Homo sapiens: one gene and its partners. The protein of the gene in region 4 interacts with the protein of the main gene of each other region in a pairwise test. Each region holds a gene or a part of one and is shown on either strand. Other genes may lie near its edges. The genes, in order: CEP76, RABGAP1L, BTG3, WDFY3 and TRIM39.

Region 1 (6,301 bases), on a different chromosome or scaffold from region 4:
TAGAGATGGGGTTTCACGATGTTGACCAGGCTTGGTCTCAAACTCCTGACCTCAAGTGATCCGCCCACCTCGACCTCCCAAAGTGCTGGTATTACAGGTGTGAGCCACTGTGCCTGGCCTAGAGGGCACCGATTTTTAAAACAGAGGATTATTATTCTAATTTTGGGGGGATGTAGAGAACTATGGTTTTCTTTTACATGAACTTAGCATTACTAATAATCTAGTGTGGTATAAGAATACTAAGTCCTGAAATCACAAACTAAATATTAAAAGAATATCCTCAATCCTCAAGTGATTTACAACATTTTCTTAAAACCTAATGGCCTTAGGCTGGGCACGGTGGCTCACGCCTGTAATCCCAGCACTTTGGGAGGCCAAGGTGGGTGGATCACGAGGTCAGGAGATCAATTCCATCCTGGCTAACATGGTGAAACCCCATCTCCACTAAAAATACAAAAAAAATTAGCCAGGCATGTGGTCCCAGCAACTTAGGAGGCTGAGGCAGGAGAATGGCATGAATCTGGGAGGCGGAGCTTGCAGTGAGCCGAGATCGTGCCACTGCACTCCAGCCTGGGCGAGAGCGAGACTCCATCTCAAAAAAAAAAAAAAAAAAACAAAACCTAGTGGCCTTAAAGTTCAATTTCTGTAACTTATTTTAAAGTTTCTTGCACTAAAAAGTTCAAAAAGCATCATTCAATGAATTACTACTATACTATAGCAAAACCAGCTAACAAAGGGTAAAAAGAATAATGAATTTTTAAGTATAATGGCCACGGCAAATCTACAGATCTTTGGTTAGTATTGAGGTGCAGGACTGTTACTCCTATTCTTACAAATCCACTAACAGGCAAGAAAAGATGAGCACATAAGAAGTGGAAGCATTTGCCTAAGTCAATCATCAATAGTAGCATCTTAGAATGTAAGATATATCATTTTATTACAGCAATATTCTAATATTATCTAAATATATCCCCACAAGCTACTTAACTGTTTTGAAAAGTTAATATTTCAACCTCTGAATGGGCACTGTCCAGTGAGAAAATCACTAACCATTATGAGCTATTTAAATTTTAATTAAAATTTAAAATTCAATTATTTTTAGTCATAATAGCCACATTTTGAATGCTCAGTACATGGCTGGTGGCTACCATACTGGTTAGCACAGATACAGAACATTTCCATCATTGCAAAAAGTTCTTGGCCAGGTGTGGTGGCTCACGCCTATGATCCCAGCACTTTGGGAGGCCGAGGCGGGCGGGTCATGAGGTCAGGAGATCGAGACCATCCTGGCTAACACAGTGAAACCCCATCTCTACTAAAAACACAAAAAATTAGCCAGGCATGGTGGCACGTGCCTGTAGTCCCAGCTACTTGGGAGGCTGAGGCAGGAGAATCACTTGAATCTGGGAGGTGGAGGTTGCAGTGAGCCAAGATCGCACCACTGCACTCAACCCTGGGTGACTGAGACTCTGTCTCACAACAACAACAAAAAAAAGTTCTTTACTTTACTTTCAGTGCTGGATACATTAGAAATTTTTTTGGCCTGGATATGTATATTAACGTTTTGATTTATAACTATTGTTTTTATAATTAGATTGACTGTTTTACACTGTTGTTGTTTAATTTCAGAACTAGTCAAATACAGGAAGCAGCAAGAAACAGTTCTGAGGAATCTAAATTAAATCAGCATTTTATTTACTCTATGTATATGGAAAGAGGTGGCATAAACCAAAAAGGCACCAGTTGAAACTCCAATTTGACACAGACTTTGCCATGACTGAGTTGCTGTTTGGCCTTGAAAAGACTGTTCACTTCTCTAACCTTCATACTGTTTACAAAAAGAGCCAATGCCTGGCCACTTGACAATCTTATATGGTTACTATGAGACTAAATTACGTTCTATGGTTCAAATCTTAAAATGAATTCTGAGAGAGGAAGTCGTTTAAGTAATATTTCCTAAAAGAAAATCCCACTTCCTTGACTTCCTTAGTGCATTTCAACTTCTTCCTCCTCTTTGATCCTGCCATTTCTCTGATTCACTGCCTCACTCCATCCTGAGTCCTCTCTAGTTCCTAATTCCACGTGGCAATGAATAAATGCCTCAGACTATATAGACAGCAGGGAGCCAGTTTATATATATATATATGTATATTTTTTGTCGTTGTTATTGTTTTGAGACAGAGTCTCACTCTGTTGCCCAGGCTGGAGTGCAATGGCGTGATCTTCGCTCACTGCAACCTCCGCCTCCCGGGTTAAGCAATTCTCCTGCCTCAGCCTCCTGACTAACTGGGATTATAGGTGCCTGCCACCAAGCCTGGCTAATTTTTGTATTTTTAGTAGAGACAAGGTTTCGCCATGTTGGCCAGGCTGGTCTCAAACCCCTGACCTCAGAGGATCCACCTGCCTCGGCCTCCCCAAGTGCTGGGATTACAGGCGTGAGCCACCGCGCCCGGCCAGGAAGCCAGTTACATTTTGATTGGTTTCTCCTTGCCTTTGTCCTGATAATGTTGTTACCTTGCCAACCAGTCATTCAATATATAAACAACGCTATCAGAAAGTCAGAAGCCATTTCCCTTATTCCCACCTCTAGTCAACCTCTCATTCCCAAGCTCCCCATCTGGACACTAAACCACTTTTAGCCTGTTCCAAAATCTAGGGAAAGTAGGGTAAAGCTGGATGAATGTACAGGATTTGAGAAACTTAACTTAAAATAATATACTACACTATACTTATATGAAAGCATCTGTATGAGGCTGAATATATACAAAATATTTGAACTGTTCCTTAGGAGTTACAAAAAATACGTGAACCTGACCACATTTTTTGTTGTTTTTTTTTTTGAGACGGAGTCTTGCTGTGTTGCCCAGGCCGGACTGCAGTGGTGCGATCTCGGCTCACTGCAAGCTCCGCCTCCCGGGTTCACGCCATTCTCCTGCCTCAGCCTCCCGAGTAGCTGCGACTATAGGAGCCCGCCATCACGCCCGGCTAATTTTTTGTGTTTTTAGTAGAAACGGGGTTTCACCGTGTTAGCCAGGATGGTCTCGATCTCCTGACCTCTTGATCCACCCACCTCGGCCTCCCCAAGTGCTGGGATTACAGGCGTGAGCCACCGCGCCTAGCTGACCTGACCATATATTTTATATTGGTCTGTTAAAGAGAGAAAATGGGTTTAGGACTCAGGAAAAATGGAGGCAGAGATATATAGTTGAAATGCTTCAGTTAAACATTACTGGTCACTGGCTTAGAAGTCGTGGTTATATACAATTTTTTTTAAAACCCTAACAAAAAATATATATATGCCCAGAGCCCCCCCCCGTTCTGCACACAAGAGCTGGATTTACATATAACCTGCAAAGTGTCCAAATGGTTAATTATTTAGCACTAAGTATCAAGCAAATACACATTCCAAGTTAAACAAAATGGATTTTCATCTACTTTAAATCAAATATATTCAGAAAGGGTTTAAAACACAATAATTGATTCAACCTGAGAAAGGTGATTTTTCAAAAACCCACAATAACTGAAATTGAAAGTAAAATAAGACATAGATTGATCTTGCCACTCACTATGCAGTGAAAGAGAATATTACAAAATCAGCATTTTATTTTACAAATACACTTTTATTTTTTGGAATACATTTTACAAATAAATATTAAATGAAATTTACACACATAACAGTAAATCTCAAATACAGGCATAAAATTATTCTAATATAATTTACAAACCTGTGCAAAAATCTTAACCAGTCGTGAGTTGTGTGAGGGTCGAATTTGCAAATATTCTCTCCACCACTGCTTAGCATATACAAGAAATAATCGCTCTTTCTCTGCAGTTTTCTGACGTTCCAAAGCAAGCTTGAAATTGAAAAAAATATTTTTCAATTTCTATTCATTATCTTTAATTACTACAAAATATGTAGCAAATTTATCTACTTCTCTACATCATTACCACCCTAATCTGAGTCATCATCATCTTCTATAAGAGCCTCCTGACTTCCCTATTTCTACACTTACCCCTAGTACAATCCCATCTCCATACAATAATCATAAGTCACCTTTTTTTCCTCAAAGACAGAATTTTTTTTTTTTTTTTGGTTGTGGAGGATGCAGTCTTGCTCTGTCGCCCAGGCTGGAGTGCAGTGGCAAGATCTCAGCTCACTGCAACCTCTGCCTCCCATGTTCAAGCAATTCTCCTGCCTCAGCCTCCTGAGTAGCTGGGACTACAGGCACGTGCCACCACACTCAGCTAAATTTTTTTTTGTATTTTTAGTAGAGACAGGGTTTCACCACATTGGTCAAGCTAGTCTTGAACTCCTGAGCTCATGATCCGCCCGCCTTGGCCTCCCAAAGTGCTGGGATTACCGCGCCTGGCCCAGAAATTTTTAAATAGTAAATCATACAAGCCGGGCATGGTGGCTCACGCCTGTAATCACAACATTTTGGGAGGCCAAGGCAGGTGGATCATTTGAGGTCAGGGGTTCGAGACCAGCCTGGCCAACATGGTGAAACCCCATCTCAACTAAAAATACAAAAACTAGCTGGGGATGGTGGTACATGCCTGTAATCCCAGCTACTCGGGAGGCTGAGGCAGGAGAATTGCTTGAACCCGGGAGGCAGAGGTTGCAGTGAGCCGAGTTCATGCCACCGTGCTCCACCCTGGGCGATAGAGTGAGACTCTATCTCAAAAAAAAAAAAAACATACTGTCATTCTCTTGTTAAAACACTTCATTCTCCATCACATTGCAAAATACCTGCCCTGGCCTATGAACTCTGGCCCGACTATCTCATTTTCTCCTCTCTCCCCAACCCACTACGCTCTAGCCACACAGGGCTTTCGGTCCTCCATAGGGGCTTTTGTTCTAGGCTGTTCCCAGTGCTGGAAGCTCAGCCCCAATCTTTGCATGGCTGGTTACTTCCTGTTGTTCAGACTCTTTCCCTACCTTAGTCACTCGACCTATAATTAGCCACCCAATAACCACTGTATCATATCACCTGTAATAATTCTCCATAAAACACCTTCTACTATCTGATTATTTTGTTTGCTGACTTATTGTTTCTCCTGCACTAGAATCTAAACTCCTTGAGAGCAAGCTGTCTAGCTGTCTGCTGCCCTATACACAGCTACATCTCCAGTGTCTAGAACAGTGTCTAGCACATTTTGACATCTATTTAGGATCCATACATATTTCTGACTTTAATTTCTTTTAAGAGACAGGGTCTTGCTCTGTCACCCAGTCTGGAGTGCTACTGCATGATCATGGCTCACTGTAGCCTCGAATTCCTGGGCTTAAGCGATCCTCCCACCTCAGCCTCCCCAGTAGCTGGGACTACAGGAATGCACCACCATGTGCAGTTAATTTTTAAAAATTTTTGTAGAGATGAAGTCTACCTATGTTGCCCAGGCTGGTCTTGAACTCCTGGCCTGAAGTGATCCTCTTACCTTGGCCTCCCAAAGTGCTGGGATTACAGATTAATTAGCCTGGCTAAAAGTTTTAATAGTGCAATTTTAAAGAGAAAATTAGAAGCAATTTATTTATCAGATAATAGAATAAACTTATGTTTTAGTCACTAGAAATTATAAATATGACAGTGGAAATATAAGAAAATACATATAAAATAATGTTAAGTTTAAAAAGGAGAACCTGGTGGGGCACAATGGTCCATGTCTGCAATCCCAATGTTTTGGGAGGCTGAGGCAGGTGGATTGCTTGAGGCTGGGAGTCTGAGGTTTCAGTGAGCTATAATCACACCACTGCACTCAAGCCTGAGAGAGTGAGATGCTGTCTCTAAAAAAATAAAATTTAATTAAAAAAAACAAGCTACTACCCCAAAAAAGTAGAGCCCAAACATTTACTTTATATGTCACATAAATATATGAATAACATGATTAAAACTCATGTATACCACTTTGGGAGGCCGAGGCAGGCAGATCACGAGGTCAAGAGATCGAGACCATCCTGGCCAACATGGTGAAACCCTGTCTCTATTAAAAATACAAAAATTAGCTGGGCGTGGTGGCACCCACCTGTAGTCCCAGCTACTCAGGAGACTGAGGCAGGAGAATTGCTTGAACTCGGCAGGCAGACGTTGCAGTGAGCCAAGATTGCGCCACTGCACTCCAACCTGGCGACAGAGCGAGACTCTGTCTGAAAAAAACAAACAAAAAAACCCCTCACGTATACACATAATGTATATGTGTGTATACACCATTTATTTAAGAGACAGGGTCTTAGTCTGTAACCCAGGCTAGTGTGCAGTGGTACAATCACAGCTCACTGTAACCTCAAATTCCTGGGTCAAGC
Region 2 (6,301 bases), on a different chromosome or scaffold from region 4:
CTGCTTCCTCACCTGCAAACTGGAGATGATATTATAATCGTTCCTACCTCATATGGTTACTGTGAAGATTAGCGAGATAATGTACATTTTCTTATGTAATAACTACCCCATGTAAACACTCAATATTAGCTCATGGTTAATGTGCAAAGAGGAGAAAGAAGTTGTGTCTAAATTACTTATTCTCTCTGAATTTCACAGCAGCACTAGATCAAGAATTAAGGTTCTATGTTCTATCTACACTGTCTCCCACAAAACCAAAAATGTTTGTAGTTACTTGCATTTTAAGTATTTTTTTCCACCCTTGGATAACTGATAAAAATGTCTAAAAGCTACTATTATCCTCCTCTAAGTGAAATTCCCAAAAGTTGAAAAATTGTGCAGGGTTTAGTGGCTCACATCTGTAATTCCAATGCTTGGAAGGGCTGAGGCAGGAGGATTGCTTAAACCCAGGAGTCTGAGACCTGCCTGGGCAACATAGGGAGACTCCCATTTAAAAAATTAGCAGAGTGTGGTGGGTACAGTCCTATAGTCCCACCAGCTACTCCTGAGACGAAGGTTGGAGAATCGCTTTGAGACCAGAAGTTTGAGGCTGCAATGAGCTATGACCGTGCCACTGCACTCCAGCCTGGGCAACAGAGAGATACCCTGTCTCCAAAACATGAAAAAAAGGAAAAATTGTTAAAGGTCTGTCTTTAGAAAAGTAAATACTCAGTGGAACATAATGAAGTTACCATGCAACACAATGAAATTTATATTCAAAATAGGAAGTATTAGATTAACTGATAAACTGGTTTCTCTTTCCTACTATTACTAGATTATCTTTTAAAAAAACTTTATCTGGGCCAGGCACAGTCACTCACGCCTGTAATCCCAGCACTTTGGGAGGCCAAGGCTGGCAGATCACGAGTTCAGGAGTTTGAGACCAGCCTGGCCAACATAGTGAAAATACTACTAAAAATACAACAATTAACCAGACATGATGGCACGTGCCTGTGGTCCCAGCTACTCAGGAGGCTGAGGCAGGAGAATTGCTTGAACCTGGGAGGCAGAGGTCAGAGGCTGCAGTGAGCCAAGATCATGCCACTGCACTCCAGCCTGGGCGACAGAGCAAGACTCCGTGTCAAAAAAAAAAAACACCTTTATATTTTCAAATGGTAGGGATGGCTAATTTATTGTGTGTGATACCAACTGCAACAGGAGAAACCTGTTTCATCTATCAAAGCTATTGATAATGTTGACAAGAACTATAAAATGCATGTCAGAATGTTTTTTAACTTAAGAGGCCTACATTATCATATGTAAAATAACTCAGAAACAGAAAGTCAAATGCCGCATGTTCTCACTTATATGTGACAGCTAAACAATGGGTACACATGGACATACAGAATGGTGGATATTCAGGTGATGGGTATACTAAAAGCCCAGACTTCACCACATCTATACATGTAAGAATCTATACATGTAAGAAATCTGCACTTGTACCCCATAAATATTTTTTTAACTTTTAATTTTTTAAACTTAAGAGGCCTAGCCTCAGTGAAAATTTAAGCTGCATAATTCATGCTGAAAAATTTTCTATGTTCATTAGTGTTGGCAAAAAGGTCACCCTAGGATTTGAATAACAGTAATATTTAATTTCATTTCCCCATTAACTTTGCCAGGAATCTCACACTAGTGTTAAGGTAACTTCTAGAATACAGAAGGAAAAAAGGAATGGAGAGAAGAAGACATTAACTGAATTACCATTCAATACCAACTTGATCATGCAACTTGGTAATAGATCTTTGCGCAGACAACAGCAAATCAAAACATTAGTCCAAATATGACCACTGACTTCAGGGCAAATATGAGAGATTTAAAATGAAAGAATACAGTTCATGAGATTTAAAAAAAAATGGAAAAAAGCAATAATAAATGAATGAGGTCTGGTGATAAAACAGCTGCTCAATAACAAAATTATTCTAAAACAACTTCAGAAACCCTACTGTCTGCCAATATATATATAACCTCCCTTCAATGGTTGATTTTTCAATGGTCAATTTTTCACTAAAGTAGTATACTCTATTCAATTTTTTTTTTTTTTTTTTTTTTTTTTGAGACCGAGTCTCACTCTGTAGCTCAGGCTGGAGTGCAGTGGCACGATCTTGGCTCACTGCAACCTCCATCTCCCAGGTTCAAGGGATTCTTGTGCCTCAGCCTCCCAAGTAGCTGGGACTACAGGCACACACCACCACATTCGGCTAATTTTTGTATTTTTAGCAGAGGTGGGGTTTCACCATCTTGGCCAGGCTAGGCTCAAACTCCTAGCCTCAAGTGATCTGCCTGCCTTGGCCTCCTAAAGTGCTGGGATTACAGGTGTGGGCCACCACCCCCGGCCATCAATGTATGCAAGATAAATTGACTACAGAAAAATAAACTATTCAAAGAAACACCTAATAACCATTCTAACAACTATTCCTTTATACAATGCTCTCAGCAAAAGGCCTCACAATGACAATTACGACATCTTGAAGCACAGAAAACACTCCATGTAGTTTATAAAAAAAACTAGTGATATGTGTCTCTTAAACCTTCATAACTCAAAACCACAGGTTTGTATTTTTTCTAAAAATAATATTTATTTGCATCACTTGTAGTAGAAGTCTGATTCTTAAAGTCTTCTAATTTTGCTTACTGCTAATAATGAGAATGGTAAACGGGTGTATGTGTGGGGTAAAGGAGAAGTTGAGAAATTCCTCACTGGTATATGAATGAATTCCATACTTGCCTTTTAAAATGTGCTCCTTTCTTGAAATTGGGCATACAAAAACTCCCTTTGGGTTTGCATTACTTTCATATTTGTGAATACTCACATGGTAGTCTTCAAAGAGCTAGAACACTTGTTTTCAACCATTTGCCAGGTGGGTGTATTTTCACCACAAATTCCAAGAACTAATGATATGTAAATATATATGTATGTATGTCTACACATACATATATGCACACTATGTGTATGCGTGTATATCTTTACAAATGTTTACATAATTTAATTAAGGGCACCATCATTATACTTTTTACCACACACACAAAAAAAATGGTGGCAGAAAATCTGGAAAGATTCTAATAACCTCAATTCGTGAAAACTAACATGCCTCAAAAAAGAGGGGGAAAAAACTTTAACAGAAACACTGTGCTGACATGATTAGCTTTATCATTTAACTGGTGTGAGGCATCTGGGCCATGCCATATTTGAACTCTTATCGTGGTGTTTGGGGTGTGCTATATTGTGGAACAGGTCACATGAAACTGCTGACACCTTCTAAAATGGTAGGACAACATTTACATATTAGGAGCTTACATAACTGAAGAAAATCGTGTGGCAATGACACAATTCATATTTATTTTAGAACCACGGCTCATCTCAAAAACTCTTTATCAACTATCCAGAAGTAGCCCAGCTTTTTACCAACCAAGTAGTTATTTACTATAGCAACTTCTTTACCAACATTTCCAAAATTTTCCACACACTTCCATGATGAGCTATTAAGCAGTCTCTGTATGTGTTGTTACCTGGGCAACACTCTAAGAAGGCTTTTACCTTTACAGAACTGGTGGGTCAAAGAGAAGCAAGGCTTCTTCAAATCGACTACACACTATTTAATTAGAAGCAGTAAGTGTGAAATCATCAGCAGACAGAAAAGCTTGAGAACTGCCACCAGTACTTCAACTTGATTAACAGACACAACTTACTGGCATTTATACCTTCATTTCTAGCTACCCAATTCCCCTGTGAAACAAGGCAAGTTCCATCCAAGACTTCAAAACATCTTCAGTCATACAGGCTGTCAAAGACATAAATGCTGAAATCTAAGAAAATTCTTGGAATAAAGAAGCCATCAATTCCTTACAAGTGGATTTTGTATAAAATACCCTGCTTTGCTGCCCTAAATTCTAAAAGCTACTCAGCTTAGCTGCAGATCTGTATAAACTACCCTTCTGCCTGAACTAAACCTGCCTCCAAAAATTAAGATCCAGTCATTTAGAAATCACATTTTAGAAGGCCCTTGTAAAGACTTTCAAAACTGCTTCCTGTTCTACTACAGCCAATTTGACGCTAATGAAGAAAAACAAAAAACAAACAAAAAAAAAACACTGTCTCTCCTTACAAATAAAATATTTTTCACTTTCCAACACTTTTAGGATTGGTAAACTCAAGGTTGCTTCTCTAACACTAATAATTTTTCCCTTCAGCTTCTACTCTAAGGATACTTATGTGCTCTCTGGATCATATTTTAATCATAACATATAAATCCTGTTCAATGTTAAGAAGTACTAGATTACTCCAGAGTCAAAAATGAAAGATAAACTGAAAAGCAGAAAGGAAAACTGGCATTCTAGGCTCTTAACCATCTGGTGCTAACGGACTCTTTCTTGCCTAGCTCTTTCACTACTCATTTTTCCCTGTCTATGCTTGTATGCCTTTGATCACCCTGGCCCCTGGCCCAGAAAGGCCTTTCTCTCATACTAGTTGTCCTATTTCCACATGTCCAAATCCTACCCATTCTTCAAAGCATAGTTCAGGGGCCGGGCGTGGTGGCTCACAACTGTAATCCCAGCACTTTGGGAGGCCGAGGCAGGAGGACAGTTTCAGTCCAGAAGTTCAAGAACAGCCTGGGCAACATAATGAGACCCCGTCTCTACAAGTAATGAAAAATTAGCCAAGCATGTTGGTGTGTGCCTATATAGTCCCAGCCACTTGGGGGCTGAGGCAGAAGAACTGTTAGAGGCCAGGAAATCAAGGATGCAGTGAGCTGTGATGGCACCACAGCACTCAGTTTGAGTAACGGGAGTGAGATGCTGTCTCCAAATTAAAAAAAAAAAAAAAAGTAGTTCAAATGTCACCTCTTCTTTTATCCTTAAAACTAAAAGTAGACCGGGCACGGTGGCTCACGCCTGTAATCCCAGCACTTTGGGAGGCTGAGGCGGATGGATCACCTGAGGTCAGAAGTTCAAAACCAGCCGGGCCAACATGGCGAAACCCCGTCTGTACTAAAAATACAAAAATTAGCCTGGTGTGGCAGTTGGCGCCTGTAATCCCAGCTACTCAGGGAGGCTGACGCAGGAGAATCACTTGAACCTGGGAGGCAGAGGTTGCAGTGAGCCGAGATTGTACCACTGTACTCCAGCCTGGGTCAAAAACGAAAAACAAACAAACAAACAAAAATAAAAGTAATCTCTCCCTCCTCTCTAAACTCTTATAGTTCCTTATCTTTATCTTTTTACCACCCATTACTTTCTGCCTTTCATTATCACTGTTGTTTCCATATTTAATCCCCCACCTAAGCATAAAGTCCTCAGGGTCAAGGTCCATCTTTATTCAAACTGATTAACACAATCCCTTATACACACTAAGTGAGGTTAGGAAAGAAGCCCACCAGAAACAACTCCAGATTGAGTCCAGAGCCCTGGCTTTGCTAATAACTCACTATCTGACCTTGGCCTTGAGGCTCTTAGTATGTTCCTTCACTTACAAAGTTAAGAGGGTAGGCTAAACTAGTTGTATTTGTTGTTAAATGTAGGCTATAATCCATTAGCTGGGTGTAAAATTAATTTGGAAGTCAAAACCCAGCATTTTTAAAATGAAATGAAATAACAGAATATATCAATGTGTGTTATAAGCAGTGGGGTGCTATAAATGTTTAACAACTACCTATGAGGAGGGAAGCCCTAAGAATACCATTTGCTGAATTTCCTGGTGTAAATATTCCCACCATGACCAATTTTGAGCTACCAACATGATGTCACTGGACAAAGAGCTAGATAGGAAGAAATATGCACAACTGGTCTTGCAAGCCATTATAGCTAACTCAGTAGGGCCCTGAAAAGATAAATATTATTTCACCAAACTTTCAACTTTGTGTGTGTGTGCGCTTGCGGAATCAAGTAGTAAAATGTATTTTTTATTGTGGGTCACAGTCAAATGAGTTTAATAAATGTTCAGGTAAACAATCTCCTGGTGTCCTTCATGTATACTACATAATTTGATAAATCTTACTCTTGGTTACAGATGTCTCTTCACCACAATTCATATTTTTCTTCAAAAATGGGAGTAACAAACTGATATCACCAGAAGGCAAATTACACAGAGCAGGAATTTGGTTTATGGAATATCAGCCAAGTGCCAAGGTTTTTAGCATTTGTTCAGCCCTACATACCTGAAGGATATAACACACTCCTACTATCAATGGCTCACTTAGCAATGGGTTGGGGGGCAGGTAGGGGGTAAGAGGAGGAAATCCATAGTATAAAAAAAAAATCCAGA
Region 3 (6,301 bases), on a different chromosome or scaffold from region 4:
TACAAAAAATTAGCCGGGCATGGTGGTGTGCGCCTGTAATCCCAGCTACTCGGGAGGCTGAGGCAGGAGAATTGCTTGAACCTGGGAGGCAGAGGTTGCAGTGAGCTGAGATCGCACCACTGCACTCCAGCCTGGGCGACAGAGTGAGACTCCGTCTCAAAAAAAAAAAAAAAGTTGCTACGGGATGGTAGAAAGGGCATTAGACTAGTTTCTCATTCTGGCTCTGCCACTGACTAGCTTGGTCACCAGAGGCAAGTCACTTAATTTCCCTAGGCCTTAGTTTCCTATATGCTGGACGAGGAAGCTGGAGCTGGCTAGATAGTGGTTGATCTACGGCTGGTGACTCTTCGTAGTATAAAATACCTAAACAGAAGCTGGACATGGTAGCTTACATCTATAATTCTAGTACTTTGGAAGGTCAAGGCAGGAAGATTGCTTGAGCCCAGGAGTTCACAATTATAGTGAGCTATGATCATGCCACCGCATTCCAGCCTGGACAACACAGCAAGACCCTCTCTCTAAAACAAAACAAAACAAACAAAAAATAAATTCCTAAACAATTGAGTTCCTCACAACATAAAATTTGTGTTCTCTAATTTCAAGTTTACTTAGCATAAGGTTTTAGCAATACACATTTACTCCATGTCCCCTCCACAGTTGGAAGACTCAACAAATTTCAAGACAATCAAGGGTTAATTCATGTGTTAATGACACTAATATAACAATGACTTAGGCCTATCTTCAGTTTTGCCCATTAATGGAATCAAAATTCAAAAATGGAAAGGCAAGAAATTTGAGAAAAATTCCTGCCTTTGTAAACAGAAACCTCAACCAAGGGCAAATATCTAATGATTGAAGGATCAGCATTATTAACTCAGATTTCTTTGACACCTAGTTTGGTTCTGCATTTTTCCCTTTGTACTATTTTGGTATGAAGGCTCTCTCTTCATGGTAAGAGAAGCTGCTGACTATACTACTATAACATTACAATGTGCAGTCGATATCTTAGGAGAATTAGTAGACACCTGGACAACTTTTAAACTTTCCATTTTTCAATGATCACTGATAAAACATCAAGGCTAATTTAGTTATTTAGAAACAATCAATAGTATTTAACACTCTATTGGGGGAAAAAAAGGATGGCAGAAATCACCAAAAAAAAAAAAAGTTGTAAAATATGTTGAGTAGATAAGCTGGCATCTGTTCTCAGAACTTCTCATCATAGGCAAGATTTATTTTCTATTCTGTATCACGAAGTGATAACCTTTCTAACTATATGGCACTCTTTGTACTCTTGCAGCATTTTATTCTATCAGAGTAAGTGAAGACTATGAAGAATGTTCTCAGTGCATCTCAATTTTTTTTTACAATCTTAGTCTCTAGTATACCAATGAGTTATTATTTTTAAAGATTCTCAGATATTTGATCAATTGTATACTTGCTAGATCAGCTTTAATTTTCAAAATATCTATGTTTCCAGTTTTGGTGAAAAAATATTTCTCAATGTCTTTTTCTTCTGTTAACTTATATCAACCACCTCTACTAAACGATTAATACGTCTTTCTTTTTGGGGTTCTGTTATTGAATGAACACCTGACACTCGCAGGTGATTTCTATTAGCTGTGAAAAAAATCACATCAGAGCCAATTTTTGGCAAATTTACATATAAATTAGAAGCCTACTGAATGAAAAGGTTTTCTAAGATTAATAAGATGAAAGCAAAGTAGCAGTTTTTTCCTACCAGGCATCATCAAGTAATGAAATGTCTACTGAAGTAGAATGTCCGTATAACTAAAGTTTTTATGTTCAGGTACTGAGACTTATTTTAAGCATTTTAAATACATAGGTCCAAAATGTTTATATAATTATGTAACTTGTTAAACATCCTTGGACATAAAAACTTTCCCCTGATGGTTTAGGATCATTATATTGAACGTAAACTATTTGATTGTGTGATAACATAATCGTGCTGATTTTTTAGCTTTTTCATTTTTGCCTCTATGTCAGACCACATGACATTTTTTGGTAGCGTCTGACTCATCAACCCTCTTTAAAATGCTGCTTCTCACATTTCATGGGTTAAGAAACCACACAACTAACTTAACTGTGTGTTAAATAGGAGCCAACTAGGATCTAAGTGCAGGTCAAATTAAAAAGTAAACAATTCAATATAGTAGCTTTTTGACAGCTATTTCTTATAAATGGAGGTCTTCTGCACAGGTTCAGTGGCCAAAGTTTTCCAAGTCTGAAACTAGCCTAAAGCAGGTCCTTAATTAGTCCCAGAATCTAAAAATGTTTATTTTCTCAGACCTAAATTTGAGATAGCTTGCTCCTTTTCTACCCGAGAAAGAAGTATTGGAGAATGTTTATCACAAACCTCTACCACCTACATCTGGTTTCCAAAAGCAATAAACTTACACCAACCACTGGCAAATCAGGTAGTAACCTCAAGCGGTGGTCCTGACAAAATTTAATGGAAGAATAATCATGTAATTCATCTCTCCTGTCTTCACCTCCACCTTCATTGCTGGAATCAGGTCAGTCTGCGACCACCTTAGGAGTACATAGTTAGGGTTCCTTCAAAAAGCAACTTTACTACAATCAATAAAGAGGCCAGGTGGTCAGGTGAATTGTACCTCAAAACCAAATAGAAACATCCTAAAGGCAGAGCCACAGGAAAATTCTTGCAGGAATTCCATGCCTCTGTTCATCTTCTTCCTGCTAGTTAGAACATCCTTCCCACCTTGTCACCTGGTCAACCATGGCTCATCCTTCACCTCCCAGCTCAAGTATCACCTACTCAGTAGTCTCCTGACTCCTCACCAGATGCAGTAACTTTCTACTTTGTGCAACCTACCACTGCATTTTGTACACATTTCTAACATAAATCAGATAACAATGTAATTTGCTTACTTTTCTTCTCAATTTCAAACTGAATTACCTAAAAGCAGAATGTTGCTTTCGTTTTTGAAAACCCTACAACTGAGAGTGCCTGGTCCACAAATAATGGTTTTTGAGCAAGTGGAGTTCAAAAAGATTTCATACCTAGCACTGATCTTTCACAACTCTATTCATTAGGAGATGTGAAAAATAACTTCCATTATAAAAATAAAACCACGAAGTATCACTCAGTCACTTACATAATCAAAAAGGAGGAGGCCGGGCGCAGTGGCTCACGCCTGTAATCCAGCGCTTTGGGAGGCCAAGGCGGGCGGATCACGAGGTCAGGAGTTTGAGAGCAGTCTGGCCAACATGGTGAAACCCCATCTCTACTACAAATATAAAAAAAAATTAGCCGGGCACAGTGGTGGGCGCCTGTAATTCCAGCTACTCAGGAGGCTGAGGCAGGAGAATCACTTGAACCCGGCAGGCAGAGGTTGCAGACAGCCAAGAATGCACCATTGCGCTCCAGCCTGGGCAACAAGAGTGAAACTCCGTCCCAAAAAAAAAGAGGAGAGAGGGAGAATAAACAGAAACAGAAACAAACCAAAAGTGGTTATCCAGTATTATTTGGGATTAGCTTCTTAATTTGAAGACAGACAAGTGCACCACCAATTAAAGATAATAGACACCTAGCGGAATCTAGGTGTCTACTTCTTGGTCTACAATAAGCTTCTTGGCAAAGCACTACTAGAAAACCCCCGCCTAATCAGTTTCTTTTTTCGGCTATAAAGCAGAAATCTAACTAGTCCTTCAACATCACCTCCAGAAAAGTATTTCATAAAATTTACATCTGAGAGAGTTAAACCACCAGCTCCTGGCCATAAAGATACACAGGCAGGCCGTACATGACAGAATGTCATAAAATTAGTTCCAGCATGGTCATCAGTTCAGCCTCTAAACTTGAGAACTCACCGACAGCACACCTCACATGGGTCCACCCAGAGAGTGAGCTCCTTTGGCAAGCCCAGGTCACTATACAAGATGCAGCTGTTTTCACAGGCTTTCAGGACATCAGGATCAACTCTCTGAAATTTATTGACACGAATACATCTACAACAAAGTGGAGTTACGTTAATGGATTTAAATGAATTTAATCATAAACGCCGTAATATCTATTCATACTTGCCAAGGTGAGTAATAAAATAGTAATAAAAAAATACCCTGGTAGAGAACCTAGGAGCATATCTATCCTAAACAGATAATAAATGTGAACTACAGGCACAGAGGCAGCCTGAAAAAAAGATGGCACCTATGTGAGCCCAAGGAAATCACTAGTACTGGGTCTACCTCAGTCTACCCAGAGACTTGACCACCCATGTACATTAAATGAGCACGGAGTATGAAAGTTGCACGAAATTTTAGAACTCTGAAGGTAAAAGTTTCTATAGGCCAAGTTCCTATACAAAAAAATCTCTAACAAAAGGCCTCATCTAATGTTTCAGATGGTATTTGGAAATGCTTACGACAAATTCTGATCTGTCATTAACTTGCTTTTATATCTCAGATAGTAAAGTGGTAAGAGGACACCCTTGCTTTACCTATAATTGTTCTATAAATACAGGATAAGTGAAGGACACAGATTCATTCATATCATATACTTATGATTAAAATACCTAACTAACATGTTATTGGCTTATTTCATTTAACTTCTATTTACCCAAGCACTTTTATTTAAATAGTTGTCAAAATTAAGTGAGGAAAATTTCTAAACCAATAAAGCCTCTGTCCCATCTTTTTTTAACCTATTATACGACATCTACCTAATGGAATGTTTAATAAATAAAAAATATGCATTCTGTTAAATGATAAGCATTCTGATTAAGTAGGGAAATAGGGCCTATGAAGGAAAAGTATTTACTGCCTACAATCAAGAATCAATCAAGAGAACTTGGATTTCAGCACTAATCCTAGTATTTATCAGGTAAGCCTAGTTAAGTCACTGTACCTCTTCCTCAGACCTGTAACTATAAAACATGGAAATACAAGTTAATTGATGAATAGTAATTACGCTGTAAAATACAATGATATAAAGACTAATGTGCTATTTAAAGTTTTTGTAAAAGTTAAATTATTAGTTGGTTTTAATTTCTATTTAAAAAATGAAAAAGTTCTCAACAGGTAATAGGAATAAGTGTTTCTACATAATAATATTAACAATAATAAGCATTTTAAAAAATTTATTATGCAATGGACAATTTCCTAAATGCTTTGCATGTATTAACTCTTAATTCTCATGATCATCCTGTGAGTTAGATACTTTTTTCCTCAGCATAAAGAAAAAAGGAGGCAGAGAGAGTTTGAGTAACTTCCCAACATTACACAGCTACTAAGTGATGGATCTAGGGTTCAAATCCAGGCCACTAGACTCCAAAGAGCAAGTTATTTCCTTAATACTCAACCCTGTATATACGTACCTATCTTAGCGTCACCATTAACAATATAACAAAGGCAAAGTGAGAAAAATTATTTTCTAGTATGTAAAATACTGCTTAGTCCTTTTAAAAACATGGTCTTATGCTATAGATTCTAATATTGTATAGGGTAATTTGAAAGATCCCATGTGCTCTGGGACCAAAAGCAGTTAAGGATAAAAAGATATATCTTAGATGTATGTGTTTTTCTTATCTACAATTAAGGTGATACAGGCTCTAAGCTTACAAATTATATATAAATATAGATGCTTAAACAGAGACTATGCTTCAACAAAATCTGCATACCTTACATGTTTTGTACTATTTTTTTTCACTCTACATACTACTTATCCATTAACTACTCTTCAAAAACAAAATTTTAAAAGTTGCATAAAAATATTCTATCATTTACTTAATGTTGACAGTTTAGTTCTTTCCATTTTTGCAATTACAAAGTGTAAGAGACATCCATATTCATACATGTTCGTCTGCATTTCTAATTATACTTCTAGAATAGATTCTTGGGAGACTTACTGTTCAAAAGGTATGAATATTTTTATAGATCTTGATAATATTGCCAAATTGCTCTCTACAAGTATCTTATTTATATTGCAGAAAAACAATTTCAACTTACAAACATTTTGTAAGAGAAAGAACACTCCACCTATTCTACAGACTGAAGTCTCTACTAACTTGGTTAATCTTATATTCTATTCATTTTTATAATAGTAACAACCCACTATTTTTTCTACTTCAAATACAGCTTTAAAATGACTCAGTAATGATACTTCTGATCACATGCCAATTTAATCGTTTCAGTTTTTTTCTCAAGTTTTTAGAATTAATGGAAATGAAATTGTACACTGTCTGACCTTTAAATATTTACTTGACAGTGCCTCCTTTTTCAGTAATAGTATGGTGGCTTGGCACTTCCAAAAAGCCTTCAT
Region 4 (6,301 bases):
TTTTGAGTAATTATGAATTTACCAAGAGAATTTCAATAAATTTATTTTTCACTGACATAATCACCAAGCACTTGTAGTATAGTAAAAAATAATTTCATTCAATCTTGTAATTTTTTACAATTTTAAGAGACTTCTCAGAGACTTGGATGCGTATTTTCACAATCTCCTTGTTAAAAGCCTGAAAAAGAAGGCTCATTCTTACATTTTTATTTTTATTAGGAACAAAGACATGTAACATATCAGTAGTGAATGTCAACAGAATTCAGCTGGGCTCATTTTCAGTTAGTTGCTTTTTGAAATGCAGTTTGTTGACAGAAGATTAAAATTTTCCATCCTAAAATCAGTAGCCAAAGTAGCTGATGGCAGGAATAATTAAAACCATCATCTGATGACGAATGCAGTCCAGCAAGTACCTTAAAATGGGCAGAAAGATACCAGGACAAACAGAGACCTTTCACATACAAAAAATGTAAAACAAACCATTATGATGATTATAAGTCCTTACCTCCTGATATTCTTTATATTGTGTATCTACTAAGTCACGAACAACAGCAATGTGAGTAAACATCCACTGCGAAATCTCCTAACAATGGATGGAAAAAGAGTCTTAATATTTCATGGATTTCTGGAAAAAAATAGTTAATTACCCTTGAAATTAATGCTAAATAATTGGTTAAAATTCTGCCAAAAGCACCAAAACAGAAAACTAAAACAAAAAATTCAGAATGAATTATATGCTTGTGTGATGGACACAGATCTGCATGCTCTCCCACCCCCAAAGCCCCTTCAAGGAAGGGCTTGCTGCCCACGTGTCTGGGCTGCTCTCAACACCCTCAGGGATGGCCTTAGCTGCAGAGGGCCGACGGGGTGCCCCACATCCAACGATCTAGGGGTAAGAAGACTCACACATTTCAGCTTAATGGAGGTCAATTATAAGAGGGTATTCTGTCCTCAAAGCTCCACTTAGCTTGGCTGAGGCTGTCACTAGACCAGCACTGCAGCCTGACTTTTCCCTATGTCCAATCCTGCTTTCTTCTCCCTTCCACAGGTATTGATCCCAAGGGCACCCCCTAATATACATTATGCACACTAAACTCCATCTCAGAGTTTGCTTCCTAGAAAACCTAACCTGATGCATGAGATGGCTGACACATACTATTTCTCTCAGATCCTTTTCATAGCTGCCACTTAGATTCTGGGATGGTGAAGGAAGTAGGATGAGGAAGAAGTTAATGCTGGAGGCAGATGAGCTTTTAAAAAACCATAGGTATACACAACAAGATTGTAAAAATTAAAAAAGGCTTGTTTGGCTATTGCCTTAAAATTTATATAATTATTAGTAATAACATTATTGAAAGCTGGGAAAATTGAGAGAAAATTATCTATAGTCTGATCATACATTAATCTCTAAATCTCATCTTATATCCAGTTATAAAATGGGTATAAGTAAATAGCACTCATATATAGTTTTATCATAAGAAAATGAGAGAAATTCCCATAGTCTGGATTACTTCTATCTCTATTCTAAAGCAAAAATACAGAAAAGTTTCATTTCCAATCAATTGCTTGTACATGTTAAGTATATTATACAAAATACTACAACTAATATCAGCAATGAAACTAAAAAAGTACCTGGGTGGAAAGACTGTGTTTATTAAGACCACTTTCTTTTCGATTCCTTCTTGATCCTGTTAACTTGGAAAGACCAAAGCCACTGCTGACACGGGATAATTTGGACTGTGTGGTGGGCGCTAAAGCTTCTCCTCGACTTATGCATTTCTTTTCATGGGCTATTAAAAAATCAAATTAGATTATTTTATAATTTCTCCATGTATTTATGAGTCTTACTTTAAAAACTTATCTGGTTATAAACTACAACCCTGTAGTTAACAAAAGTAGCACATATTACAGATGCAGATATTACATTCAGATATCACAAATTTATTTATTGGTAATCTTAAGGATGACTGCTCGCAAATTGTATTAGCTGAACTGATAGTTGGTTGAAAGTTCACAGCTCTGTAATAACATGCAAATTTAACTATAACGAGTTTCTATATTAATAATTCATAATCACCTAATTAAAACCTTTGGTGTTGGGTATACTTCGCAACTTAGAAACTATTTGGATTTTTAAAAGGCTATACAGCTTATACACTAGATTATATAATGCCACCAGAGAATCTATGGTAATAAGCTATAATTTAATACGTCAATATTACTGCAACAAAATGTATGAATATTCCCATACCAAGTAGGACAAAGAAAGATAAATTAGGTTCTGTTATAAAGTCAGTTTTGGCACCAAATTAATGAAAAAACAGAGCTTTTTGAATTTCAAAATTATAGTTAAGGGATTGTGGACCTGTAGCCAAGACAGTGACAATACTAGAGCTGTTAGCAATGCATTACATTCTGAATGCATAAACGCCTGATGTATAACATACCTCAGATGCTAAAAAAAAAAAAAAAAAAATCAAAGAGAACTAAGATCTCAGTATAATCATTCTAGAATGGTTGTTATATTGATTTTAAGGATGACTTTATAGAATCCTTTTGTGAATGCTGTAGTCACATATTTAAAGTATACCCATATATGATAGCCACATGTAAATCTCCTGGTGGTATGATCTCTGTAGGCCTTACCCAAATGATTCTGCCAGCACTTCAGGGCAGCTTCTTCAATGAGTGGCCTTGCTGTAGCTATGTCCACGTGGCCCCTTTCATTCACAGGTAGAGTTACTTTGAAAAGTTCCTCTAAGACTTGTTTCTTACTATGTATCAGTTCAGTCCAAACTCTGTTGACAGCTTTTATGAGAAGCTGACGCCCTAGTAAACAAACAAACAAACAAACAAAAAAGTAAGCAAATGATCAAAACACAGTATAAAGTTAGTTTTTATTTTTCTTCATGTTTACATGTGGGAATTTCGACTACAGTATTTAATGTAAAAAAAACAAAGCTCATGTTGTATCTAGCCCAGTGAAAAGGTTATTTAGACAACTGAAACTGTGGTTGCCTATTTAGAAAACATTAAAAAAACTTTATATTCATACAAAAGAACATTTTTATTTATAAAATTGGAAATTATATATATGTAATTAACTAACTTTTTCTAGATTAAAAACTTATCCCCCATTTAAAAGTAATTTTTAAATCTGAATGTTTAAGGTGAGTTCAAAACTAAGTTAGTATTCTTGAATATTTTGCACAAGAAAAGAAATATTTTGAAAAGACTTTTACTATGAAATTCATTCTTGCTTTGGATTCCTTGTTTGTATGCCTGACTCCTCCTCCAGACCAGTCGGCCCTCAGCAATCACCTGAGGGCCTGTGATAACAAGCTGCTAGTCCCTCACCTCAGGGTTTCTGATTCAGTAGGTCAGAGTAGGGCAACAGAATCTGCTTTTCTACCAAGTTCCCAAATGATATTGATGTTGCTATTCTGAGGACCTTGCTATGAGAACCAACGCCACTTCCTCAGGGGGTGAAAATAATAACCGCATCTTTGGTGTTTAGGGTTCAAAACATTTTGGTGAAAGAACAGAGAATAAATTCATGTTTAAATGAAGGAATGAAATTAAAATGAGTGCTGGGCTTCTCAACAATGAAACCATATGTAAAACTATCGCACAGTATTTCTGGGGAGACAAACACCACCAGAGTGATTTCTCTTTATCACTAAACATGTGGAAATAAGAAATCAATCCATACAAAGACTTCAATATGCAATCCTTACAGGATTAGTGGGAAAACCAGATTGAAAAAAAAAAGAGAGGGGCTGGGCATGGTAGCTCACAGCTGTAATCCCAGCACTTTGGGAGGCCAAGGCCGGTGGATCACTTCAGGTCAGGAGGTTGAGACCAGTCTGGCCAACACGGTGAAATCCTGTCTCTACTAAAAATACAAAAAAAAATTAAGCCAGGCGTGGTGATGTGCACCTGTAGTCCCAGCTATTTAGGAGGCTGAGACATGAGAATCACTTGAACCCGAAAGGTAAAGGTTGTAGTGAGCTGAAATAGTGCCACTGCACTCCACTGTGGGCAACTGAGCAAGATTTTGTTTAAAAAAAAAAAAAAAAAGAGAGAGAGTATAAAGAAGAATAAAAAATAGCACTATTGATAACCTGTCTCAAGCAATATTAGCCTACTCTAATGTGATATGCCTGGCATTATCATTGGGCAGTTCTCTTTATAGTTAATTCCAAGGTAGTATTTGTACTTCTACTTAAGCAAATGTAAATATTAATACCACCACCAAATCTCACAGTGTTACTAAGAAATGATGAGCTTAGCAATATTACTGGTTAGTGCTTTACTGTTATTGGCATGAGGAGACTCTTTATGTATAGGTTGCCCTACTGGGAGAGTTGCTATCAATGCTGGCAGTTTCTGAAGCCAATTTGTTGGTTATGTCTTAAAAACTGGAGATAAAACAACCACAATTTAAAAACATCCCAAGTCAAGGCAATTACCTTCACTAATATCTTGGCTGTAACTACCATCTGGTTCAATGTCCGAGGGGATCATAATGTGCCATGTGGTCATGCGGGCTTCTGCTTCCAGTCCAAATCCATCCACGTTGCTGAAAAATTCCAGTCAGTTTAAACTTTATGAAGGAAATGATTAGCTGAAGACTACAGTAACTAAGAATTACTCTATTTCCATTACCAGCAGACACTGAATGTCTACTCAGCAGATGCACAGAACAGAATTCTAGTTTGCCAGGAAGATGCCATTTTTAAGAGGTGATCAAATAAATCCACCTGACTAAATGTAATTAGACTGATCTATAGCATCAAGATTATTACCTTAATATTTAACATGCCTTTTGATTATTGTGAACATTTTTACCTAATAATTACAAAATGTTCATTCAACTAAGAACATTTTTCTAATATGCCTGTGTCCTCTCTCCAGTCTTATATCTCACTACTCTGCTCCTGTAGTGAAGTAGTTGCAGTTCCCCTGAGGTGCCACACTCCTTCTTCCCTCTGGGCATTCATACAGACTGTTCTTTCCTCCAGTAGCAGTTGTCTCCATTCTCTTGTCCTCCCCAACCAGGTCTCAAGCTGCAGCTCAGCAGGTATTTCTTTCAGGTTAGGGGCCCCTCTTATGTGCCTCCAAAGCACTGGGTTGTTCCTAGCAGATCACTCAATACAGCTGACTGGTCTTGCTTAGCTGTTTCCCCTCAAGAAGGCTGCCACAGGGTCTATCATACTCACATTTTGTCCCAGCCCCTAATTCAATGCTTGGCCCCGGCAGACTCTAATGAAATATCTGTCAAAGCAATCAACTGAAAAATACTAATTTTACTCATTTAACATATAACACTGCATTGAGCTTCACTTTTTACTTCTCTTAGATTTCAATGGTATATATTTTATTTGCTTTAAAAGCAAACTTCCTTATATAAGTGACATATGGTGATAATGGAAAATTTTAAAGGTGTAGAAAACTAAGTTAAAGGAAAAAAAAATACCCATTATTTCACTGCAAAAATTCAACACTTGCCCTTTACCTTTTTACATAAAGGTTTAAATAAAACAGAGTAAGGGTAAAAGAAATGTTACTATCAAAAAAAATAAAGAATTTTGTTGGAATAACATCAAAGCCAAATTTAACATGGCAAACTGAACCTAAAGGATTTACCTTCCAACATGTAGATTTATCAAGCAGTGGGCCAGACAGCTAATGAATTCTTGGTCATGGTTCCCAGGTCCCAGGATCAAGTTTCTGTTTACAGTGAGGACCCTGAGTGAATCAAGCAGAGCTACTTGCTGAGGAACGGTTTTGTGTGCCCGTGAGAACTGGTACAAGATGGTCCTATTGAGGCAATGATACACTGCATCCAGTGACAATCCCTGTGATCTTCTCTTTGACTAAAGACATGAAAGGTATGTTTTTAGTATAATAGACAAAAGTAAAACACCTGTTAATCATTCATACATGAACTTTTATTAGGTCTATTATATACCAGATGCCATGCTAAGTATGCAGGTGCTAAGTTAAAAGATACAAAGCTCTTACTATTATGGATTTCAGAACCCATGAGACACATCAATATCATCTAATGAATGATATGAGGGCTACATAAAAAAAAAGAGCTCCCAGGGAGGAGAGCCACTAACGATGCTGTGGGGCAGAGCAGTCTCCCTGAGAACACGAGGATGTGACAGCTAGGGGAGTCTCCTCACAAATATATTTTGTTAGGATAAATGATCTATATTCAAAAGTACTGAAAAAAATTAAGATGTTACTAAAATCATTTTTTTTTGACATTCTAATTTCATCCCCTCATTTG
Region 5 (6,301 bases), on a different chromosome or scaffold from region 4:
ACACATGCTGTTGGAAAACATGGTGCCAGTAGACTTGCTCAACACAGGTTGCCACAAACCATCTATCTGAAAAACATACAATGTCAACAAAACACAATAAAGCGAGGTGCAATAAAATGAGGTATGCCTGAAATTGTTTAAATAATATATTGCTTTTGATATGTATATATTAATAATACCTCTAAAGTGTTTGAAATATTTTGTTCTCTTACGTAAATGAATGGTGTTAGCAAAACTAGGGAACATATTTTTTATCTTAGAGATTAGATTACCAGCATTTGAAGCAGTGAGGCTTCATTGTACATTTATTTTTATGTTACGTATTGCTTGGTATTTGTTCCTATGGCCTTTCATGTATGTGTGTTCTGCCTTCCATATTAAACTGGGAAATCCTTGTGGGACAGAGATTTGTCTTCTTTGTCTTCTGGACCCCAAGTATTCACAAATCAGTATTAGCACACAGTTATTAATGTGTTTATTCTTCCTTTTTTTTTTTTCTGAGAGAGTCTTGCTCTGTCGCCCAGGCTGGAGTGCAGTGCATGATCTCGGCTCACTGCAACCTTTGCCTCCTGTGTTCAAGCGATTCTCCTGCCTCAGCCTCCTGAGTAGCTGGGGTTACAGGCGCACACCACCACACCTGGCTAATTTTTGTATTTTTAGTAAAGACAGGGTTTCACCATGTTGGCTAGGCTGGTCTTGAACTCCTGACCTCAAGTGATCCACCCGTCTTGGCCTCCCAAAGCGCTCAGATTACAGGCGTGAGCTACTGTGCCCAGCCAGTTATTGATGTTTATTAACTAATGCAAGACAGGGGATACCAAACCGTAACAGGAATGTGTGATTTGTTCCTATGCCACCAGTCTGGAACTCTCTGTACTTATCCTCAAGGAGAGTGAGATATGTGGTTGGTACTTGGGGGACAGAGTAAAGAATTGATACAATCCCTGTCCCTTATAGGGAGCTCCCAGCATCCTTGAGGAGCAAAGACAAGCATAAAAGAAATCATTGGGAAGTGATATAAATGACCAAGCTTCATGATGACCAGAAGTTGAAAGTAGGGATTAGGTTGGGAGAAGTGCATTCAGGTCCCGCTGGAGCTCTTCTTGCACTGTGTGACCCTCAGTTTATCCTATCCCTATTTTATAGCTGTGGAACTTTGGGGAGGAGGGGGAACCTTTTGCCTTCAGGACCACTGAATACCAGGACCAATATTGCTTTCTTTTCTCCTTCCTTCTAGGATGTCAAAAGTACCCTGGAAAAGTAAGTGATTGTTGTATCTCTCTGAGTGAGTTAGGTCTTGGCTTAGAGAGGAGGGGTACAGTCAGGAGTTTGGGTTGGGGGTGAGGTTGGGAAAGTCATGTAGTGTGTCTGGGCAGGGTATGGGAGAATGTTCATTGTGCCCATGAAGCCAGTTAGAGAACAAATTATTGGGAATAATAATCCCTTTTCCCCTTTGAACATCAGGACTTCTTGAGAAGGAGAATGATAAGGTAGAATCAGATTCTACTTGTGCCAGTGGGTGGAATTGTGTCCAAACAAGATGGCAGGAGGAAGGGGTTGGGAGAGCAGGGAGGGCAATCATCCATTTGCATGAAATACAGGAATATTCCTAGAAAGTTCGGAGGCTCACTCTCAACGATCTGTCCACGGGATCATAAGGCTCTCCTTGGATTAGTAAAAGAAATCAACAGGTGAGCTTTTCAGGGAGGAGGAAGAAAGTGGGAAGATGGAGAATTTTAATTTCTCCCTAAAAATGTTAACATCTGAATAGTCACTTGGCTGGAGCTTCTCCCTAACCCTGCCCTTTCTTCCCCTATCTCCCTATCCCTCCTAGATGTGAAAAGGTGAAGACCATGGAGGTGACTTCAGTATCCATAGAGCTGGAAAAGAACTTCAGCAATTTTCCCCGACAGTACTTTGCCCTAAGGAAAATCCTTAAACAGCTAATTGGTGAGTTGTTCCCAAAAGGAAACTAGAAGAAACCACTAGAGAGAAGAAAGTTTTTAGGTCCTACCTTATATGGGTTTCAGTTATCCTATGTCTCACTTTTCTTACTCCCACACACACCTACCCCTTTATCTGGCTTTTAGTCTCACCCTGAGTCACAGAACTTGGAGTGAGAGGAAGCCTTAAGCGTTATCTACTCTTAGGTCCATTCTTTTCTAAATAGAGACCCAGAAAGGTTAAATAATTTGCCAAAGTCATCGGGTAGAGTGGTTATATAATTTACCATGTAAACTTGCATAACCTTCAAAGGCCGGGTGCGGTGGCTCACATCTGTAATCCTAGCACTTTGGGAGGCCAAGGCTGGTGGATCACTTGAGGTCAGGAGTTCGACATCAGCCTGGCCAACACGGTGAAACCCCATCTCTACTAAAAATATAAAAATTAGCCAGATGTGGTGTTGGGCGCCTGTAATCCCAGCTCCTCTGGAGGCTGAGGCAGGAGAACTGCTTGAACCTGGGAAGCGGAGGTTGCAGTGAGCTGAGATCACACCACTGCACTCCAGCCTGAGGGACAGAGTGAGATTCCATCTCAAAAAAAAAAAAAAAGAAAGAAACTGAAAGGGAGTGTCATTATATTAATGTGAATATGCAGGGAAAATAGTCATAAACCAGGCCAGTTCCTGGAAAACACACATGGTCACCCTATCCCTAGACCATATGCTGTCTTGCTCGGCATCCTTCTTAACACTTTCCGTTTTTTTCTGCCCCTCAGACTACACCTTGTACTTCTCTACATAGTGAGATAAATGATAATGTCAGAGGGAGATGAAGAGAGGACCAGGCGGGAACCTAGATTACCAGCCACTGCAGACTCAAGAGATTATTATCTGTTTACTTTAGGGTCAGGGTGAGAAGTGAGCCATTGCTTTCTCCCCTTCCTTAGGTGACACCATGGATTGAGAAAGTTAACCAAACCAGGTTGTTCTGGGGACCTTTAAGGGACCAGGCTCTGTAAAGGCAGGCTGGAAGAGTGAGGCAGGGGCATTTAGCTATTCCCATCCTCATCTAGCTCCCCACTCTGGCTTCTCCCGCCAGCGGATGTGACCCTGGACCCTGAGACAGCTCATCCTAACCTAGTCCTGTCAGAGGATCGTAAGAGCGTCAAGTTCGTGGAGACAAGACTCCGGGATCTCCCTGACACACCAAGGCGTTTCACCTTCTACCCTTGCGTCCTGGCTACTGAGGGTTTCACCTCAGGTCGACACTACTGGGAGGTGGAGGTGGGCGACAAGACCCACTGGGCAGTGGGTGTATGCCGGGACTCCGTGAGCCGAAAGGGCGAGTTGACTCCACTCCCTGAGACTGGCTACTGGCGGGTGCGGCTATGGAATGGGGACAAATATGCAGCCACCACCACACCTTTTACCCCTTTGCACATCAAGGTGAAACCCAAGCGGGTAGGCATATTCCTAGACTATGAGGCCGGCACACTGTCTTTCTACAATGTCACAGACCGCTCTCATATCTACACCTTCACTGATACTTTTACTGAGAAACTTTGGCCCCTCTTCTACCCAGGCATCCGGGCTGGACGGAAGAATGCTGCACCACTTACCATCAGGCCCCCAACAGATTGGGAGTGACAGGTTGGGATGTGGGAATGACTGGGGTGAGGCAGGGTCAAGTGCTACGGGCCTCCTTCCCGTGTCCTGCTGGAACGTCTTCGTGTCCACCTGGGTCCAGTCCTGAATCATCTTGGAGAAACACCTTGGTTTCTAGGATGGTTTTGTGTGGAGGGGGAGGTAGGACTGGGCTGGATGAGAGAGCACAGCTGTGACTTCCTCCTAACTGTCAGGGTGGGGAGCTGGTTCCCAGAGGATTGTCTACCCTGAAGTCCATCAGGTTTTCTGTTGCACAAGGACGGGTCAGGAAGGAAGGAGAGGCTTTTCCAGAAACAAAAAATCTGTGAGGGTCTGACTTGCTCAAACCAGAGGAGGAAACAGAAACCCCTGCACATCTTTTTAGGGGGTTCTTTGACCCAGGATAGTCTTGCTTCTTGAGGTAGATCACAGGGGTCTGTGTACCTCTGAATTCATGAGAGATGAATGACAGATGCTCTCATGGGTCTAGATATTGAGGAGTTTTTCTGAGGGCAGAGATTGGACATCAACAAGGCTAGAAGGGTCAGGGAAGTGGGCTAAAGGAACAGATTCCTAGAGATTAATGAAGAGGAGGGAGGTTTCTTTGGTCTTCTATTCCAAGGGTAAGGTTGCGATTATGGGTAAGATTGGCCAGAGGTAGGAATGTGGGGAGAAGGAGAGGCTGAAAAGAAAGCAGAGGAGAACCCAGGTCCCTGCCTCAGCCTTCAGCAGAGTTGGCTTATTGCCTGCCTCTATACCAATAAGTCAGTCACCTTGCTCCTCTCCAGAGGCAAAGTGGAAGAGATCCTGCAAGACACATCTATCCTTTCACAGTGTTCCCAAGGGAACTTGGAAAGGAGAGTCAGGTATTAGAGGAAAGAGAAGGGTATTTGTATACAAAGCCCTGGCCTTAAAGAATGTTACTTAGTAGCTACTCCCAAATTGTCAGCCTTCTTACCTGGCCAAGGTGTCCAAGCCAGAAAGGAAAAAAGGTTATGGAGTCTTTCTCACCCTAAGGACAGGGTGGAAGAGGGTGGTATATAGGGAAGGGCCAGATAGGCAACTTCATTTGGCTTGTGTGCATCTGGCCTGGAACTGGTGTTAAGCCAGGCTTTTGCTTGTTTGTTGCCATCCCTCACCCTTTGCCATTTCCCTTTTCAGAGAATGTAAATGATTTTCATGTTAGGCCAAAATAAACAACTTATAGGGTACATATGTTGTCATAAAAGGTAAAAGTGATGCATGCCAAACCAAACTAAACCAATTTGGATTATCTGCTATTCGGGTAATCTTCACAGAAATGACTGAGAGAAGAATCTGCAGTTTACTGAGGGCATTTCAGTTCCTCCTACCACCTCAACAGGACTTTGTCCAGACTCTCCTCCTCTTACCTTTGTGCCTTGACTGTGGTTCTTTGTGGCAAGATACTTTGGTTGGTTAAAATAATATGGAACAAAGGATCCACTGAAGTGATCTCTGTGTTGTGTGGTAATTTGGTGACAGCCTTGTACTGATGTGTAAGAATCACTGGGTGTTAGACATGCATGTTCCTGGGTCTCACCCTTAGTGGTTAGTCAAGGTCTGGGGTGGGCCGGACATCTACATTTTATTTATGAGACAGAGTCTCGTTCTGTCGCCCAGGCTGGAGTACAGTGGTGATCTCAGCTCACTGCAACCTCCGCCTCCCAGGTTCAAGCAATTCTCCTGCCTCAGCCTCCAGAGTAGCTGGGATTACTATGGACTATAGCCATGCACCACCACACCCGGCTAATTTTAGTGGAGACAGGGTTTTGCCATGTTGGACAGGCTGGTCTCGAACTCCTGAACTCAAGTAATCTACCTGCCTCAGCCACTCAAAGTGCTAGGATTACAGGTGTGAGCCACCGTGCCCAGCCTACATCTACATTTTAAACACACCACTCTCATTTGAGTCCGAAAACCCTTGTGAAACTAGTTCCAGAGGAGGTTTCAGCCATGTCCTTCCTCCCAGCTGGAGCCCTGCTTGTCTGTCCCCGCCTGGCACTGGGTCTGAAATTGGAGAGAAGTCATCCTCTCCTGACTTATGCTGCCCTCCCCATCTCAGGGTTCATTGATCTTCTACCCCTCCAATTCATGTCCCTCTGCTTCTGACTTCAGTAACTGATAGTCACTATGAGTCACAGGACACCAGACAGAAGAACTGGAAGATAGAAGAGGTCAGAGGGAGGGGTGTGAGGTGAATGTCAGTGTGGGGAGTGGGGTGAAGTTTCAGGGGCAGGGGATGCTGTTGACAGATTTCTGTGCTGTACCTAAGCCTAGGAGTTAGAAACCATTCACTCAGAAAGTGAGGATCACCTACTGTGTGTCCAGCACTGCATAACAGGAAGTGTGTTTCTTTGGTAGGTGGAATAGTAGGAGTAAACTGTGCTTTCTGAGGACCGGGAGTCCTTTTCCCTCCCTCCAGCACCCTCATGATCCTTCCCACTTTCACCCCCACTGGCACCAGTGCTTTTTTTTAATGTATTACCTCTGTGCCTTCCGTCTGTAGATCTTACAGGCATCTGCCTCGGACCTCAGGAGAGTAGGGCAGAAGCTCTAGCTGGGTATAAATTGCACATAACCATCTCCCCAACGTAGCTACATAAAGAGACCAGCCTTCTGTCCTGAAAATGGCCGATTTAAGATCCTCACCTGCTCCACTAGGTCTCTAGGTGATATAATTGGTCATGAGCTTGA

Evidence for each region.
Region 1: the proteins of WDFY3 (region 4) and CEP76 interact in binary tests that used the Homo sapiens proteins (3 or more experiments, as listed by UniProt).
Region 2: the proteins of WDFY3 (region 4) and RABGAP1L interact in a two-hybrid assay, tested with the Homo sapiens proteins (one large-scale study listed by BioGRID and IntAct).
Region 3: the proteins of WDFY3 (region 4) and BTG3 interact in a two-hybrid assay, tested with the Homo sapiens proteins (one large-scale study listed by BioGRID and IntAct).
Region 5: the proteins of WDFY3 (region 4) and TRIM39 interact in binary tests that used the Homo sapiens proteins (3 or more experiments, as listed by UniProt).

The regions. Positions count from the first base shown.
Region 1 is NC_000018.10:12,687,634-12,693,934, forward strand, and holds part of CEP76 (centrosomal protein of 76 kDa), read right to left. Parts: intron 3,855-6,301; coding exon 3,726-3,854; intron 1-3,725. UniProt on the Homo sapiens protein: Centrosomal protein involved in regulation of centriole duplication. Required to limit centriole duplication to once per cell cycle by preventing centriole reduplication.
Region 2 is NC_000001.11:174,164,059-174,170,359, reverse strand, and holds part of RABGAP1L (rab GTPase-activating protein 1-like), read right to left. Parts: intron 1-6,301. UniProt on the Homo sapiens protein: GTP-hydrolysis activating protein (GAP) for small GTPase RAB22A, converting active RAB22A-GTP to the inactive form RAB22A-GDP. Plays a role in endocytosis and intracellular protein transport.
Region 3 is NC_000021.9:17,601,005-17,607,305, forward strand, and holds part of BTG3 (protein BTG3), read right to left. Parts: intron 3,994-6,301; coding exon 3,856-3,993; intron 3,273-3,855; coding exon of another isoform or gene 3,141-3,272; intron 1-3,140. UniProt on the Homo sapiens protein: Overexpression impairs serum-induced cell cycle progression from the G0/G1 to S phase.
Region 4 is NC_000004.12:84,734,538-84,740,838, forward strand, and holds part of WDFY3 (WD repeat and FYVE domain-containing protein 3), read right to left. Parts: intron 5,880-6,301; coding exon 5,650-5,879; intron 4,583-5,649; coding exon 4,473-4,582; intron 2,830-4,472; coding exon 2,647-2,829; intron 1,791-2,646; coding exon 1,633-1,790; intron 584-1,632; coding exon 506-583; intron 1-505. UniProt on the Homo sapiens protein: Required for selective macroautophagy (aggrephagy). Acts as an adapter protein by linking specific proteins destined for degradation to the core autophagic machinery members, such as the ATG5-ATG12-ATG16L E3-like ligase, SQSTM1 and LC3.
Region 5 is NC_000006.12:30,338,671-30,344,971, forward strand, and holds the end of TRIM39 (E3 ubiquitin-protein ligase TRIM39), read left to right. Parts: intron 1-1,237; coding exon 1,238-1,260; intron 1,261-1,601; coding exon of another isoform or gene 1,602-1,691; intron 1,692-1,834; coding exon 1,835-1,950; intron 1,951-3,041; coding exon 3,042-3,589; 3' UTR 3,590-5,059; downstream 5,060-6,301. Other genes in the region: TRIM39-RPP21 protein, read left to right, coding at 1,238-1,260, 1,835-1,950, 3,042-3,226.